2 linked regions of the Homo sapiens genome follow. The protein of the gene in region 1 interacts with the protein of each later gene in a biochemical or structural test. Each region holds a gene or a part of one and is shown on either strand. Other genes may lie near its edges.

What was found. The genes of interacting proteins can lie anywhere in the genome.
Region 2: of the proteins of ATF1 (region 1) and MAPKAPK2, one has a biochemical effect on the other in vitro, tested with the Homo sapiens proteins (one study listed by BioGRID).

The regions. Positions count from the first base shown.
Region 1 is NC_000012.12:50,808,843-50,816,243, reverse strand, and holds part of ATF1 (cyclic AMP-dependent transcription factor ATF-1), read right to left. Parts: intron 6,789-7,401; coding exon 6,655-6,788; intron 4,624-6,654; exon of another isoform or gene 4,381-4,623; intron 2,258-4,380; exon of another isoform or gene 2,235-2,257; coding exon 2,052-2,234; intron 1,965-2,051; coding exon 1,805-1,964; intron 1,402-1,804; exon of another isoform or gene 304-1,401; intron 1-303.
Region 2 is NC_000001.11:206,679,935-206,688,124, reverse strand, and holds the start of MAPKAPK2 (MAP kinase-activated protein kinase 2), read right to left. Parts: upstream 3,221-8,190; 5' UTR 2,896-3,220; coding exon 2,617-2,895; intron 2,492-2,616; exon of another isoform or gene 2,268-2,491; intron 1-2,267. UniProt on the Homo sapiens protein: Stress-activated serine/threonine-protein kinase involved in cytokine production, endocytosis, reorganization of the cytoskeleton, cell migration, cell cycle control, chromatin remodeling, DNA damage response and transcriptional regulation.

The DNA.
Region 1 (7,401 bases):
GCAATCCTCCCACCTCAGCCTCCCGAGTAGCTGGGATTTTAGGCACACGCCACCATGCCTGGCTAATTTTTTATCTTTTGTAGCAATGGGTATGTTGCCCAGGCTTGCATTGAACTCCTAGGCTCAAGTGATCCTCCCGCCTCGGCCTCCCAAAGTGCTGGGATTACAGGCATAAGCCACCACGCCCAGCCCTATTTTTCCACTCTCTACTTCCATGTGTTCAAATATTTTAGCTCCCACATATAAGTGAGAATGTGATATTTTTTCTTTTTGTGCCTGGCTTATTTCACTTAAGATACTGACCTTCAATTCCATCCATGTTGCTGCAAATGACATGATTTAATTCTTTCTTATCCATTTATCCACTGATGGACACATAGTTGATTCTATTAGCTATTGTGCGTGAATAGTGCTGCAAGTAAACTTATGAGTACAGGTATCCCTCTGATATATTGATTTCTTTTCCTTTGGGTAGATTTCTATTTTTCGTTTTTTGAGAAGTCTCCATACTGGTTTTCATAGTGGTTGTACTAGCTAATTTTAAATTTTTGGGGGCTGGGTGCAGTGGTTCATGCCTGTAATCCCAGCACTTTGGGAGGCTGAGGCAGGTGGATGGATCACTTGAGCCCAGGTCTGAGACCAGCCTAAGCAACATGGCAAAACCCCACCTCTACAAGAAAAAAAAAAAAAATTAGCTGGGTGTGGTGGTATACATCTGTAGTCTCAGCTACTTGGGAGGCCGAGCTGGGAGGATCACTTGAGCCCTGGAGGCAGAGGTTGCAGTAAGCCAAGATTGTGCCACTGCACTCCAGTGTGGGTGACACAGTGAGACCTTGTCTTAAAAAAAAAAATCACAAAAACCAAATATAACTTTTCTACTTTTTGAACTTTTTTGTTAAAAATTAAGACACCAACACCAACATTAGCCTAGGCTAACTAGCCTAGGGTCAGGATCATCAATATCATTGTCTTCCACCTCCATACCTTATCCCACTGGAAGGTCTTTAGGGGCAATAACACACAGGGAGCTGTTATCTCCTATGATAACAATGCCTTCTTCTGGAATACCTCCTGTAGGGGCTGCCTTGAGGCTGTTTTACAGTTAAAAAAATTTTTTTTTTTGAGACAGAGTCTCACTCTGTTGCCCAGGCTGGAGTGCAGTGGCGCAATCTCAGCTTACTGCAAGCTTCGGCTCCCAGATTCATGCCATTCTCCTGCCTCAGCCTCCCGGGTAGCTGGGACTACAGGCGCCCGCCACCACGCCCAGCTAATTTTTTTGTATTTTCAGTAGAGATGGAGTTTCACCACGTTAGCCAGGATGGTCTCGATCTCCTGACCTCGTGATCTGCCCGCCTCAGCTGGGATTACAGGCGTGAGCCACCATGCCTGGCCTACAGTTAACTTTAAAAAAAAAAAAAAAAAAGTAGAAGGTATACACTTTAAAATAATGATTAAAAGTATAGTAAATTCATAAACCAGTAACATATTAACTTATTATAGTATCAAGTATTATGTTCTATACATAATTGCATGTGCTACACTTTTATATGATTGGCAGCACAATAGGTTTGTTTATACCAGCATTGCCACAAACGTGAGTAATGTGTTGCACTATGACATTAGCACAGGACTTTTTAGCTCCATTATAATTTTATGGGACCACCGTCATTCATTTATGTGGTCCATTGTTTACTTAAACATTGTCATGCAGCCCATGACTGTATACAGTTCCAGTTAACATCTGGTTATGTTGTGAGATTTGTAAAAACATTACCCATTCTGGTACTACGATTTTACTACCTACCTGTTTTTCATTAACCTTATTTCTCTTTTCAATTGGGGGTCATCTGTCTTAGTTGTCTGAGAGGTGAGAGTCACAGGAGATGTCATCACCACAGTTTGTGGCAGAGAAGTAGCTGAAGGTGTAGTTCGGATCTGATATGTTTGCATATCTCCTGATGCAGCTAGATGGTAAACAAGAGTGAATGAGTTAGTTAGTAAGTGTCTCTGACAGTGTTAGGAGACTTTCTGTAGACAGAAAGCATACTTACTTTGTACGACCACCTGATTGCTGGGCACAAGTATCTGCTGTCCATCAGAGGTCTGTGCATACTGAAGAATAGTTGTACCTTGCTGAGTACTGCCTGAATTTGTCATGGTTAATGTCTGAAGTCCCTGTACTCCATCTGTGCCTGGACTTGCCAACTGTAAGGCTCCATTTGGGGCAATGGCAACTTTAATCAAAAAGAGAAAATAGCTATTGTAAGGTTATATAATACACTAATTCAAAGGAGTGGCAAAAAGCCCACAAACACTATTTACTAAAACAGGTATGAATGCACTTCTACTTGGTAACTGCAGACTACTTTACTTTAGGTGAACTACATGTAAAAGGAATAAAACAGCATTTCTTTTTTTTTTTTCTTTTTTGAGATGGAGTCTCGCTCTACCGCCCAGGCTGGAGTGCAGTGGCACGATCTCGGCTGGCTGCAACCTCTGCCTCCTGGGTTCAAGCCATTCTTGTGCCTCAGCCTCCCAAGGAGCTGGGATTACAGGTGTGCGCCACCATGCCCAGCTGATTTTTATATTTTTAGTAGAGACGGAGCTTCTCCATGTTGGCCAGGCTGGTCTCAAATTCCTGACCCCAGGTGATTCACCCGCCTCAGCCTCCCAAAGTGCTGGGATTACAGGCATGAGCCACTGCACTTGGCCCCATGATAGTTAATTTTTAAGAAAAAATAAAAAGGAAACATAAACATAGTTTGTAATTTTGAGTCAAAAGCATTAAAAATATTATTACTTTAAAATATTTCTGAATAGATAACATGCTTATGGAAAAAATTCAATAGAATAAAAGGTTATATAATGAGAAAATAAGTCATCTTTATATGGTTTCTTAGCTTCATTTTCTAGTGGTACCACTGTTAAATGTATTACATGTTATTAAGATATTTACTTAAGTGATAGTTAAGAAATGTAATCTATTCATTTACTTCCTAGTGAAAATCACTAATAAAGATAGCAGAAAGCCACTGTGTAGAAAATACTACTTAGCTCCCCACAAACATTTTTTCACTGAATTATACCTGTGTTCATGCTTTCTCCTCAGCCCTTAAATGCCCATAAGGCATGATCAAATAGAAAACATTTTAGCATTATTCAATTCCCATATACTCTTCAGAATCGAATGCCTCATCTCTGTACCCTCTTTTCAGATTACAGTTATGAAACATTTTTTTTTCCTTTTATGCTTTGGCTACCAGGAAGCCAAAATACATGTATATGTATATGTGTGTGATGGAAAAATATTTTTTTTCACGCATTCATAATTATCCCTCCCCAACTGCCCCAACTTTAATTTATGAGTTTCAAAATATTTTTTTAAATGTTAGATACAGGGATATGTTGGCTATTTTTTTTGAGACAGGGTCTCACTTGTCACCCAGGCTGGAGTGCAGTGGTGTGGTCCTGGTTCACCACTGCACTCTACCTCCTGGGCTCAAGCAATCCTCCTACCTCAGCCTCCCAAGTAGCTGGAACTATAGATGCACACGGACATGCTCAGCTAATTTTTAAATTTTTTATAGAGATAGGGTCTCCCTATATTGCCCAGTCTGGTCTTGAAATCAAGTGATCCTCCCACTTTGGCCTCCCAAAGTGCAGGGATTACAGGCGTGATCCAACACGCCAGGCTGAGATTTGCTGTGAAGTTATATTAGCAATTAGTTTCAATCTTCTTCCCTGCAACACATTATTATATACATATATACACATACACATTTATTTATATAAGTATCAACATAAATAAAATTAAAGGTCCCATTATCTATCTCTATTTCATTTTCCCCCTTTTACCGCCATCCTGAGATAATTATTGTTTTTGGTGCACATCCTTCCCATTATTTTCCTGTGCTTATACAGACTTATATACTTTTGCCATTATGTTCAGTGGTGAAAACTGCAATTTCTTTTACACCAACCTAATATATCAAAATACATACCTGTAGATGCAAATGTTTTGATATTAAATATGTGTGAATACATATTTTCATTTTTGCAACATATCTTCCTGTTCTTAACATGTGTATTTACCTGTTAATGTGCTGTATTTATTCTAAAACTGAGCTGTCTGATAGGGTATTAGCTCCATGTGGCTATTTAAATTAACTAAAATTAAACAAAATTAAAATTTCAGTTTCTCAGTCCCACCAGCCATATTTCAAGCACTCAACAGTCACACATGGTTTAGTGGCTACTATTCTGGGACAATGCAGATATAAACATTCCCATTATCATACGAAGTTCTATTGGCCTATGTTGCCCTAAATACTAGTTTGTACTACACTTATTTCAGTGATAACATGTGAACCTCCCCACTACCTCTGATCTCTGCTCCCAAGCTTCTTTCCTTGCAACCACTGCTCCCAGTTTCTTTCTTTCTTTCTTCTTTTTCTGAGACTGGTCTTGCTCTATTGCCCAGGCTGGAGTGCGGTGGTACGATCACGGTTCACGGTAACTTCGAACTCCCAGACTCAAGAGATCCCATTTCAGCCTCCCGAGTAGATGGGACTAGTCACATGCCATGATGCCCGGCTTTTTTTTTTTTTTTTTTTCTTCATTTTTCTGTGAAGACACAGTCTTGCTATGTTGCCAAGGCTGGTCCTGAATGTGGCTTCAAGCAATCCTCCAGCCTCAGCCTCTCAACGTACTGAGATTACGGACATGAACTACAGTGCCTGGCCCCCAGTTTCTCAAGAGGTATTCTATATATATATTATTTAATTAATTCATAACAAACAACTGAAAGCCTACTATATGCCAGGTCCTATATGTCAAGGATGTAGTTGTGAATGAAACAAAAGGTTCTTTCCCTTAAGGATCTTATATTCTAGTGGGGAAAACAGATCATGAATAAGCTAATCTATAATTACATACATACAATCTATAATTAAACTAATATGTACTGACTTAGTTATATGTAAATGCTATAAAGAAAAATATAGGAGGTTAAGGGAAACTAAAGGGAGGAGCCACATATTTGAAGAGAGTGGTCTCTTTGTGGAGGTGACACTTAAGCAGAGTAGCCACATAAGGATCTGGGGGAAGAACATGCCAGGCATGAGCAATGACAACTCCAGAGATCCTGAGGCAGAAACAAGCTCGTGTGTCTGAGGTACAGTAAGGAAGTCTGGGGTGGTCAGAATGCCACCAAGTGGCAGGAGATGAGGTCAGAGTGGTAGGCAGATCCTAAATGTAATGCCTTGTAAGATCCGGATTTTATTCTAAGTGTGATAAAATGTCACTAGAGGATTTTGGGCAGGAGCGATGTGATCTAGTTGACATCTTAAATAAATCACTTTGGCCACAGTATGGAAAACTGATTATTAGAGCAAGAATGGAAGCAAGATGACCAACTGGATGCCTACTTCAGTAATTAAGATGAGAGCCTAAACCAAGGCGGTGGTGGTTGGAGACGGCAAGAGGTGGTCAGATGGGACATATATTTTGTGGCAAGACTGAATGAAACAGATTAATGTTAGGAGTGGAGGGGGAGATAACAAATGGGCAGCACAAGTAAATTCGTTAGGGTGACAGAACTCAATCTTGATTGGCGGTGTTATACTATTCTACACATTTGTCAAAACTCATAGACTTAAACTCCCCAAAGAGTGAATTTTACTGTATATAAATCAAACAATAAATATTTTTAACGAATAGGCAGGGGCCAGGCGTGGTGGCTCACGCCTGTAATCCCAGCACTTTGGGAGGCCAAGGTGGGTGAATCACTTCAGGTCAGGAGGAGTTTGAGACCAGCCTGGCCAACATGGTGAAACCCCGTCTCTACTAAAAATGCAAAAATTAGCCAAGCGAAGTGGTACACGCCTGTAATCCCAGCTACTTGGGAGGCTGAGGCAGGAGAATCACTTGAACCCGGGAGGTGGAAGTTGCAGTGAGCCGAGATCATGGCACTGCACTCTAATCTGGGCAACAGAGCGAAACTCCACCTCAAAAAAAAAAAAAAAAGCCAGGAATGTTCTGAAAGGAATTATACTAATATAATATACAGCAATTATGTACGGAACTACATAGATATAAGAATGAACAAAATAAGGCCAGGCGCAGTGGCTCATGTCTATAATCCCAGCACTTTGGGAGGCCAAGGTGGACGGATCACCTGAGGTCAAAGTTCGAGACCAGCCTGGCCAATATGGTGAAACCTCCTCTCTACTAAAAATACAAAAATTAGCCGGGCGTGGTGGCACACGCCTGTAATCCCAGCTACTCCGGAGGCTGAGGCAGGAGAATCACTTGAATCGGGAAGGCAGAGGTTGCAGTGAGCCAAGATTGTGCCACTGCACTCCGGCCTGGGCAACAAGAGCGAGACTCTGTCTCAAAACAAAACAAAACAAAACAAAACAAAACAGTATCTAATGTTGTAGGTCTCAGTTCCCTCATACATTGATAATTGCCTATGTCACAAAGTTGTTATAAGGAGTAAATAATGCTGAAACAGTACTTCGCATTATTCCTGGCTGAAAACATCCTTTAATAATCATCACTATCAAAGTATTACAGTTTTCCTAACACCATTTCTTTCTACAGAAAAGTCAGGTTTTGTGTGTTTATAATGTGGAAACTGATTCCTATACATACTGTACTGTCCGCTGCTAGTCTGATAGATGGGAGTTGGAACAGACATAGAAGTGACAGCAGCAGAAACTCCAGAATTTTCTCCGTCTCCTTTTCTGCCCCGTGTATCTTCAGAAGATAAGTCTTTCAAAATTTTTCTGTAAAAAAAACCAGAACTCTATTAAACATTGGTAATGTGAATGACTTCACAAAAATAATTTTTTTTTTTTTTTTTTTTTTGAGACAAGATCTTGCTTTGTCACCCAGGCTGGAGTACAGTGGCGCCATCATGGCTCACTGCAACCTCTGCTTCCCTGGCTTAAGAGAGTCTTGTGCCCCAGCCTCCCAAGTAGCTGAGACCAGAAGTGTGAGCCACCACACCCAGCTAATTTTTGTATTTTCAGTAGACACGGGGTTTCACCATGTTGGCCAGGCTGGTCTTGATCTCCTGGCTTCAAGTGATCCACTCATCTCCTCTTCCCAAAGTGCTGGGATTACAGGCATGTGCCACCATGCCCGGCCACAAAAAGAAATTCCTAAAACTTTTTCAATCTCAGGTAAAAGTTATAATAATCGGGCCAGTCATGGTGGCTCACACCTGTAATCCCAGCATTTTGGGAGGCCGAGACCAGCGGATCACAAGGTCAGGAGTTTGAGACCAGGCTGGCCAATATGGTGAAACCCTGTCTCTACTAAAAATACAAAAATTAGCTGGGCATGGTGGCAGGCGCCTGTAATCCCAGCTACTTGGGAGGCTGAGGCAGGAGGATC
Region 2 (8,190 bases), on another chromosome or scaffold:
GTGAGGTCAAAGCACCCACCAAAAGCATTTAAATGGGAGCTCTCTGAGGTGGAGGGAGAGAAGCAGCAGGGTGAGCTGGGACTCTTTTTCAAATGCTGATTTCACTTAACAGGGCTAAGAGGTCACCGACTATAGGCAGAGAGGAGAGCATCTAAGCAGCTGCCAGCTCCCATCAACTCTCAGGGCTGCAACATAGCAGACTTCTGAACCCCAGCAGAGGCTGGGCTCCTGCCCTCCAGCTCTGCCCTAGCCCCCAGCATTGGCCTCGGCACACTGTAGAATAGAGGTCTCCTCCCCTTTTCTCAGGCACCTTCCCAAGGGGGTAATCCCTCTTGCCCCACTCCATCTTCCTCTCCTGCTTTATAATCACTAGACTTCTGGTTTTGAAAACCATTTCACTACTCAGCACCTGAGGTTAATCAAAATTCAAGATCTAGAAATCTCTTTGGTGTGTGTCTCTGGAACAGCGTTCTTTGAACCAGATTCCCCCCACAGCTGTAATTATGTCTCAGCCAATATTTGGATATGGAAGTGCTGTTAACACTGCTGTCAGTCTCCAAATGCCTTGTCTCTCCTTTCTTCCTCCATTATTAAGTTTTAACACAAAGACGTGTGTGGGAAATCCACAATTTAACAGTTGAGTCAACTTAAAAGATCTGGGAGCAGGCTGCCTGTCAAAACAGACTGACTTCACTCTTCGCCCACTTCTAACCTGAGAGGGATAAACTATGAGTGTTATTTAACACGCTGCTGGATTTTTCCTTCCAAAACTATTCAAAGTAGAAAAATATGTAAACCTCTCTCTCGTTAGTTACAAGAGAAATCTGAATTGCCACTCAAAAGCATTTTATAGGATGATTTTGTGCGTGTGTCTATTAAACAGAATACAGAGCAGAAGTTGGGAGCTTTTGTTCTGAAGTCTTTACATAATATTCCAAATATCCAAGAGAATGAACAGCCAGTGTCCCCAAACTACTAATGGGTGAAGGCAGATGGTGTCTCAGAGGGGACAGCAAACACTCCTGTAAAGACCGTCTGTCACTTCCTCAATGATACAGGTTAACTGTGGTCAAACTGTATTCACCCAACTCCAGTCCCCAAGGTCAGAGCCATGCTCAATCCAAACAACTCCTCCTCCTCCTTTCCCTTCAGTTATGAGTAGGGAAAGAGAAGTCTAAGACACAAATGTTGAAGTGTTGAAGATACTTATCCCCTCTCCAACAGTCAACACTAAACAACAACCGAGATCCCAGAGCAATAACTTACAGTAGAAAGCAAAGCACTGTAACAGGGTTGAGTATGAGAGCAGCAGGAAAACAATTCTAGAGGCCTTAAAATCTAGAAATGGAACATGCTTGCCCCGTACAACCCCGAAGTACTGGTGTTTCTTTTAAAACATCTGATCGTATATTCCAATAGTTCCACCCATACCACATTTCTGAGTTTTGTACTTGACAACTGAAATACAGCTCGCTGTGGGGGCTGAAGGGGAAGAGAAAAATATAACACAGGAAGTATTTTTCTCCTCCTCCAATCATTGAGACACCCCAGGGGAAACAGACCTGAGGCGTCACCTTTAGAGATTGGTTTGACCTGAAACCCCTGTGAGAGGAAAACCTTGTTGGTGACCCTGCAAGACCGGCTCACACTTCACTGCGGACCCACCCATCTCATGAGACCTCCCAGTCCATTGTGTTTAACTTCTGAAGTCGATATTCTCACTTGAATCCTTATTCTCCCCACCACCACACCCCTTAAAGAAAGAAAAGGGATGGGCTCCCCCGGCTCAAGGATAATGTTTCCTCAGACTGCCCATCACGGCGCGAGTCCAGGACAGCAAGTGGCCCTCTCTAGGAGGCGGAATCAGCACGGGCCCGGCCGCGGGTTACAGACTCTGTTCACAATGATCAGCCGGGCCGCGGACACCGCCGGCCTCTCCCCGGAGCCGCCCCGCGCGGGCGTGGGAGGGGGCCAGCTGAGGGGGCCAGCTCCGGGATCCAAATAATCCCGCCCCCGCAGCCGGGGGACACCCAGGACCCTCCCGCCGCACACCTCCTGCCCGGCGCGCCCCAAGGCGGCCCGGCTGCCCTCGCGAGGCTCGGGGAAGTGAAATCACACATTCCGGCTCCCAAATAAGGAGCGAGGCTAAATAAACCTCTGCGATCCGACTTCTCCAAACCAACCGACCAACCGGCTCAATGAGTAATGGGCCTTTTGTGCCCGCAGAGAGAGAAAAAGGAGGGAGGAGAGGACGGGGAACCACCAACCCCAAAATCACTTCCTTGAGATGGAGTGAAATTAGCAGAAGTCCCGAAGCCAACCGTTCTGACTCGGCTGGATCCCGCTCAAACCCCAAAATGGCAGGGTCCCCTGAGTCCCCAGGAGCGGGTCCCAGGGCTCCCGCCCGGGAGCGGCCGGAAGCGGTCAGGGAGGCGAGGGCGCTGGGACCCGCCGCCCGCGCCGCACTCGGCACCGCCGGCCCGGCCGCCCCGCCCCGCCCCGCCGCGGCCACCCCTCCGCCCCGCGCCGCGACCCAGGCCGGGACGGGCACCCGACGCCGTGGAGCTCCAGGGCCCGGGACCGGCCCCGCCTCCCCTCCCCGGGCCCCAGACCTACTTTGAGGGCGAATTTCTCCTGGGTCCTCTTGTTGAAGATCTGCAAAACTTTGCCGTTGATGCCCAGCCCCAGGACCTGGCTGGTGACCTTGTAGTCATCGATGATGGCGTTCTTCTTGATCTGCAGGCCGGACTTGACGTGGAACTGCGGGAACTGCTGCGGGGGCGGCGGCGGCGGCTGCGCCGGGGGGTGCGGCAGGGCAGGGGTGGGGGGCTGCGGCGGCGGGGCCGGGGCGGGGAACGGCACCGGCGGGCTCTGGCCCTGGGAGTTGGACAGCATGGTGCCCGGGGACGCCGGGGCACAGGCGGGGGTGCCCGCGGCCGCCCCCTCCTCCGGCTCCGGGCCCCCTCCCCGCCGCCCCCCGACGGGCTGCGAAGTTCGCTCCGGGCTGGAGCCGGCTTCCCCGACCCGGCCCGGCTCCAGGCTCGGCGGGTCGCGGGGCTCCGTGGGTCCCACCGCGCGCCGCTGGCTCCCACCGGCCCGGCGCCCTCCCTCCCTCCCCCCGGGGGCCTGGCGCTCTGGGGACCGCGGGGCGGCGGGGGCCCGGCCGGGGGGAAGCGGCCGCGCGACAATGTACCCAGCCCCGGGCCGGCGGCCGCGTCACAGCCTCGTCTGCGTCCGGGGCCGGTCCTTAAAGGGGAGGGGCGGGGGGCGGGGCCTGGGGAGGCGTGGCGTGGGGGGAGGGGCGGGCCTTAAAGGGGAGGACGCGCGGTGCCGGGAGCTGGGAGGATCGCGGAGTAGGCTGGGGGCTGCTGCCTCGCGGACAGTGAGAGGGGACAGGGAGAGGGGACGAAGAAATGCTAGTTCTTAACCAAGGCTATGCAAAGGGAGAGGGGAGGCGTGTCAAAGGAGCTGCATAATTCAGATGGAAAATCCACTCCTCTCCAATTGTCTGGGCTTCTTAGCGGCAGCGAATTGGGAGAGGGGTGTATTTCCAAGGACAGGGATGGCTTGTAGGTATCCAGCTAGATGAGACCTCGTGGGGGTGGGGGGGAGCTGGAATCACAGGGGTCATTCATCCCAGGAAAAGGTGTGAGCCAAAGGCGGGCGTATTAAATATTTCCCTAACTTCAACATTTTCCTCTGAGGTTTTTTGCATCTCTTTTCTCATTAATTTATTGTTTTTCAGTAAAGACGTATTATTGTGTAACCAGGAGCACTTTAGTAATTATACCTTTGAACATGTTTTCCTGTAAATAAACTAAAAAGGATACAGGGTGGGAAGAGGATGGGTTGAGATTGGGGCCACCTGAATTCCCGCCATCCTTTGCCACGGATTGGCTGTGTGAGGCTGAGCAAGCCTTGCACCTCTCTCTCCGTGGGAAGAACAGCGAGACCTTTTCAAAGGTTGTGGGCAGAGTCAAAGGAGATAATGAAACTGAAGGGGAGGCCCTGGGGAATGGCTTCTGATTTCCGATGTGGAAAAATTAATCCGTAAGAAGTGGGTTAGCCCCGTGTATCTCAGGAAAAGCCCAGGGATCTAGCTGGACCCTGCATAGAAGCTGCCAGGAGGCCTCCACACACATTCTGATGGGGTTCGAGATGACCAAGTACATTCCTGCCGACCTCCTCCCACCTCTGACTGGCAGAACATTTGAGAAATGGCAAGCAACCCAGACAGGTGAACACAAAACCTCAGCTTAAGTCTTGGTAAGGCCAGTTAGAGAATGAGGCTTGACCTATGGCCACACATGCCCCCTAATAGGTCCCCCAAAACTCCAGAGAGAAGACAACACCCCCAGAAGTGGCCACTGGGGATAGAACTTAGGTAGGTAAGGGACAAGTGCAAATGTCTCTTCCCTCATTCACCTTTCCCAGAAGATGCTTGTGGAGGCAGGAATGAGGGGGAGGAGTGAGGGGTGGGAGTTACCCTCCCAACACTGTCCTTTCCTGGGGCAGGTAGGGCTCTGTGGACCAAGGAGAGACATGTTTCCCCCGACACAAACATATGCTCTTCTCAAGCAGCATCTGCTTAGCTCCATGTACAAGGTGCCGTGCTCAGCCCTGCAGCGGTGGATGGTGTTATCTGATGGGGAAGAAGACAGATAACAGTGGCACAGAGAGGATGGCAGACACCTTCCTAGGAGCCCGAAGCACAGGGATTCTCTTCTGTCTACAGCAGCCAGCAGCTTCCTCCCGAGTCTACAGGATAGATACGGTTAGACAGCTCCCCAGATGCCCCTGACTCTTCAAAGACAAAGACACTATCTAAGGCCACGGGGATAGGAAAACATCTTCACTCCACTACTTCTATAGCACTGCTATCACCTCCCCGAAGCACACACAGGAGATGCCCAAGGACAAGAGGAACGCAGGGGTGGGAAGGTGGAAGGCTCCAACTGCTCAGGCTCTGGTGGGGCTGCTCTGGAGTCTGAGTTGGTCTTTTTTTTCTTTGCAGAGTCACTGGAAGCTCCCTATGGCTTGGTGTTGAGGTATCACCTGCTTTTCTCCACAAAGCTAGAAAGAGAATAACTTCCTTCTGCCTTTTCAGAGGCAGCAAGGCACAGTGGTAAGATGACAGGATCTAGAGACAAATGAGCTGAAGCCAAGACTGTCCTCCAACTGGGTTACCTTGAGCAAGACATGTAACATCTCTCAGCATCTGAAAAAGAAAAGAAAAAAACAACAAAATCTACTTTCGGGGCTGAGAGAGAATAAAATGAAATAGTAATTATGAGAACACATCCTAAAGCATAAACTATACATTATCATGAAATATTAAATATCACCATTATTTAGACATTGCTGGCTTGCTCCTCTGCTCTGTGCTCATGGCCTACGGATCTATTCCTGATATCAAAGCTGCTTTCCTACCTAGCTGGAGCTCCAGGGAGATGGTGAGGCCCAATGATCTAGGAATAACAGGACAACTGAATTCCCACCTGAGAGTCCTCCCGGAGCTGCAAGAGCCAAATAGGCCTAGGGGGCACACAGGGACTCTGAGGGTACATACATAGTGGATAGAGATTATATGAACTGCACACACAGCACCAGAAAACACACACATATATGAACACAACACATGAGCACAATGTGCCATGTAACAGAATAAACGCCTAGTGGATGAATAATTGAGGAGTAAGATGTGCTAAATGCAGAAGCACTGGCCAAGAGATCCTGAGTCTTAAGTTCCATTCTGATACTGACTCGCTATGTAACCTCATGAGAGCCCCTTGCTCTCTCAGTTCCTTCCTTCTCATCTGCAAAATAGTGACAATAACATCTGCCTTGCCTACTTTGTAGGGCTTGTGCAAGGATAAAATAAAAACTTTCCTACAGGAAGCAGTCCAAAGTCCTATTTGTGTAACACCAGGCTCTTAGCCATCTGTAATGAACTACTTAATAAACAGTTTTTATGGATGTGTAAAAGCGCTTTAAAACTTGAAAGTCTATGCAAATAGAAAGTACTATTTTTATCTACTATTAACATGCAAACACATATGCCATGCAATATAGTACACACAAAGACAATTTAAGGACCTCAGGTACATAGAAATGGATTAATTATAATCCTTGATTCATGACACACTCTCGTCATTGGATCATTGATCCATGCAGCTCCACTTTTATTGTTAGTTAATAATTATTTTTAATAATGCAGTAAGCACCTGTGAATCCACTACCCAAAATAAAAACTAGAACTTCGACAATAATTTACATCTAACTAGATGATTCCTCCACACACACTCCCCCAACCCCTCCATTTTCATGGCCCAAGACCCCATCATCCTGAGTCCTATGTTCACCTTTCCCTTGCTTTCCTTTTTATATAGTTTTGTTTCATGAAGGCATGTTCAAAGGTATCATAAAAGATGAAACTCAAATCACCTTAAAAGGGAGGTGGCCAAGGGTGATGTTAGCAGCAAGACCAGGTTAAAATAAGAAAATGCCTTGTCACAGTTTCAAAGTATTCCTCACCTTCTCATGATGATGGTGATGATGATGTTGATGATGATGATGATGATGACGATGACAATGTTTTTTGAGTGCTTCCTGAGTGCCCAACACTGTGCTCAACCCTCTACCTGCATTGTCTCATTTAAATCTCATGATGATCCGTGGCTGAGATTGCTAGTTGGGTGGGCTAACACCTTTTTTTCCTCTCTTTGATAGTAAAGAGCACCCCATATTTAGCTAAGCACAAGACTGCCTGGAATAAAAATTACATTTCCCACTTGAGCAGCCTCCACTATAGCCGGTTACATTCATAAGATTAAGTTATAACCAATGACTTGTAAGTGGAAGTGGTTTATGGAAAGAAGTATGTCCTTCTTCTTCTCCTTCTCTTTTTTCTTTCCTGCTGACTGGAATAAAAATTTCACAGCTGTAGCCATCTTGGATGGTGAATTGGAGGTTACAGGTTGAGGAAGACAGAACAAAAGGACAGAAAGAGTCTGTATACTGGTGAACCTGGATCCATCATATCAGCAATGAGCCACCTACCCAGACTTTTATATGAAAGAACAATAAATGGCCTTCTTGTTGAAGTGACTGATGGTCTAGGTTTTCTATCATTCACAGCCAAACCTTATCCTACTCTTACACAGCCCTATGAGGTCTGTACTGTTATCCTCACTTATCTGTTGTATAAACAAGAAAACTGAGTCCCAGAGAAATTAAATAACTTTCTCAGAGTCATTCCACTAGCGAAGGACAGGACCCAAATCTTTCTGACCCAAAGTCCATGCTCATGGTCCTTACTATAGATCCTGAGCAGACATATACTCACATATCCTTCTTAATGTCAGAAATATGATATCTGCTATTTCTGGGCAGGAATTGCCTGAAGAGGTATGGGCTATTCTTTCCATTTTAGAGCAACATAAATTTTCCACACCTCAATTTCCTTCCATCTTGGCCTAATCTGTTACAGAATATAGGTCTATGTTAATTTGCATGACTGGGTTATATGATAGGATACATTGTGACAATCTTTTTCTTCAAGATTCCCCCACACAGCCTTCACACCATCATGGAGTAAAAGTTTCCTGTTTTACTATGACGTGGCATTATGAATGAGTGACAGAGGGTGGAAATTTATGGAGGTGGATCTCTTGGAAATTTTCAGCTAACACTCTCTTGATGAGTGAGGATCATCCACAGGCTGGCGGATCTGCGCATGAACACAGATAAAGCAGCCTTTGTATCCACTGCTAGTACCGCAAACAAAATATTGCAAGAAGGAGCATGATTTACAGAAGAAGCTCTGTCCACTAAAAACCCACTCTTGGAAAGAAAAATGGCTTAGAGCCAGAGAGAAATAGTCTTCATGTCATAGGCTAGTATTTCTGTGATAAAATGAGAAATTCCCCCAAAGCAAAAGTGACAGATATATATACATAAGACTCAGTCACAAAAATTTCTGACCCAGAAAATGACCTCAAAATATTGGTCAGGATGGCCTCTATCATCCCTTCTATCTTAGCTCTTTCTGAAGGTGTTAACGGCTGCCTCACAGAAAGGAATTCTACCCATAGCAAGTGCCATTGGTAATGCCCTAGTTAAGACATCCCAGAGGGGAAAAATCCTTCCCCCACCCACGGTGCCCTTGGTGCCCTCCGTGCCCTCATCTGC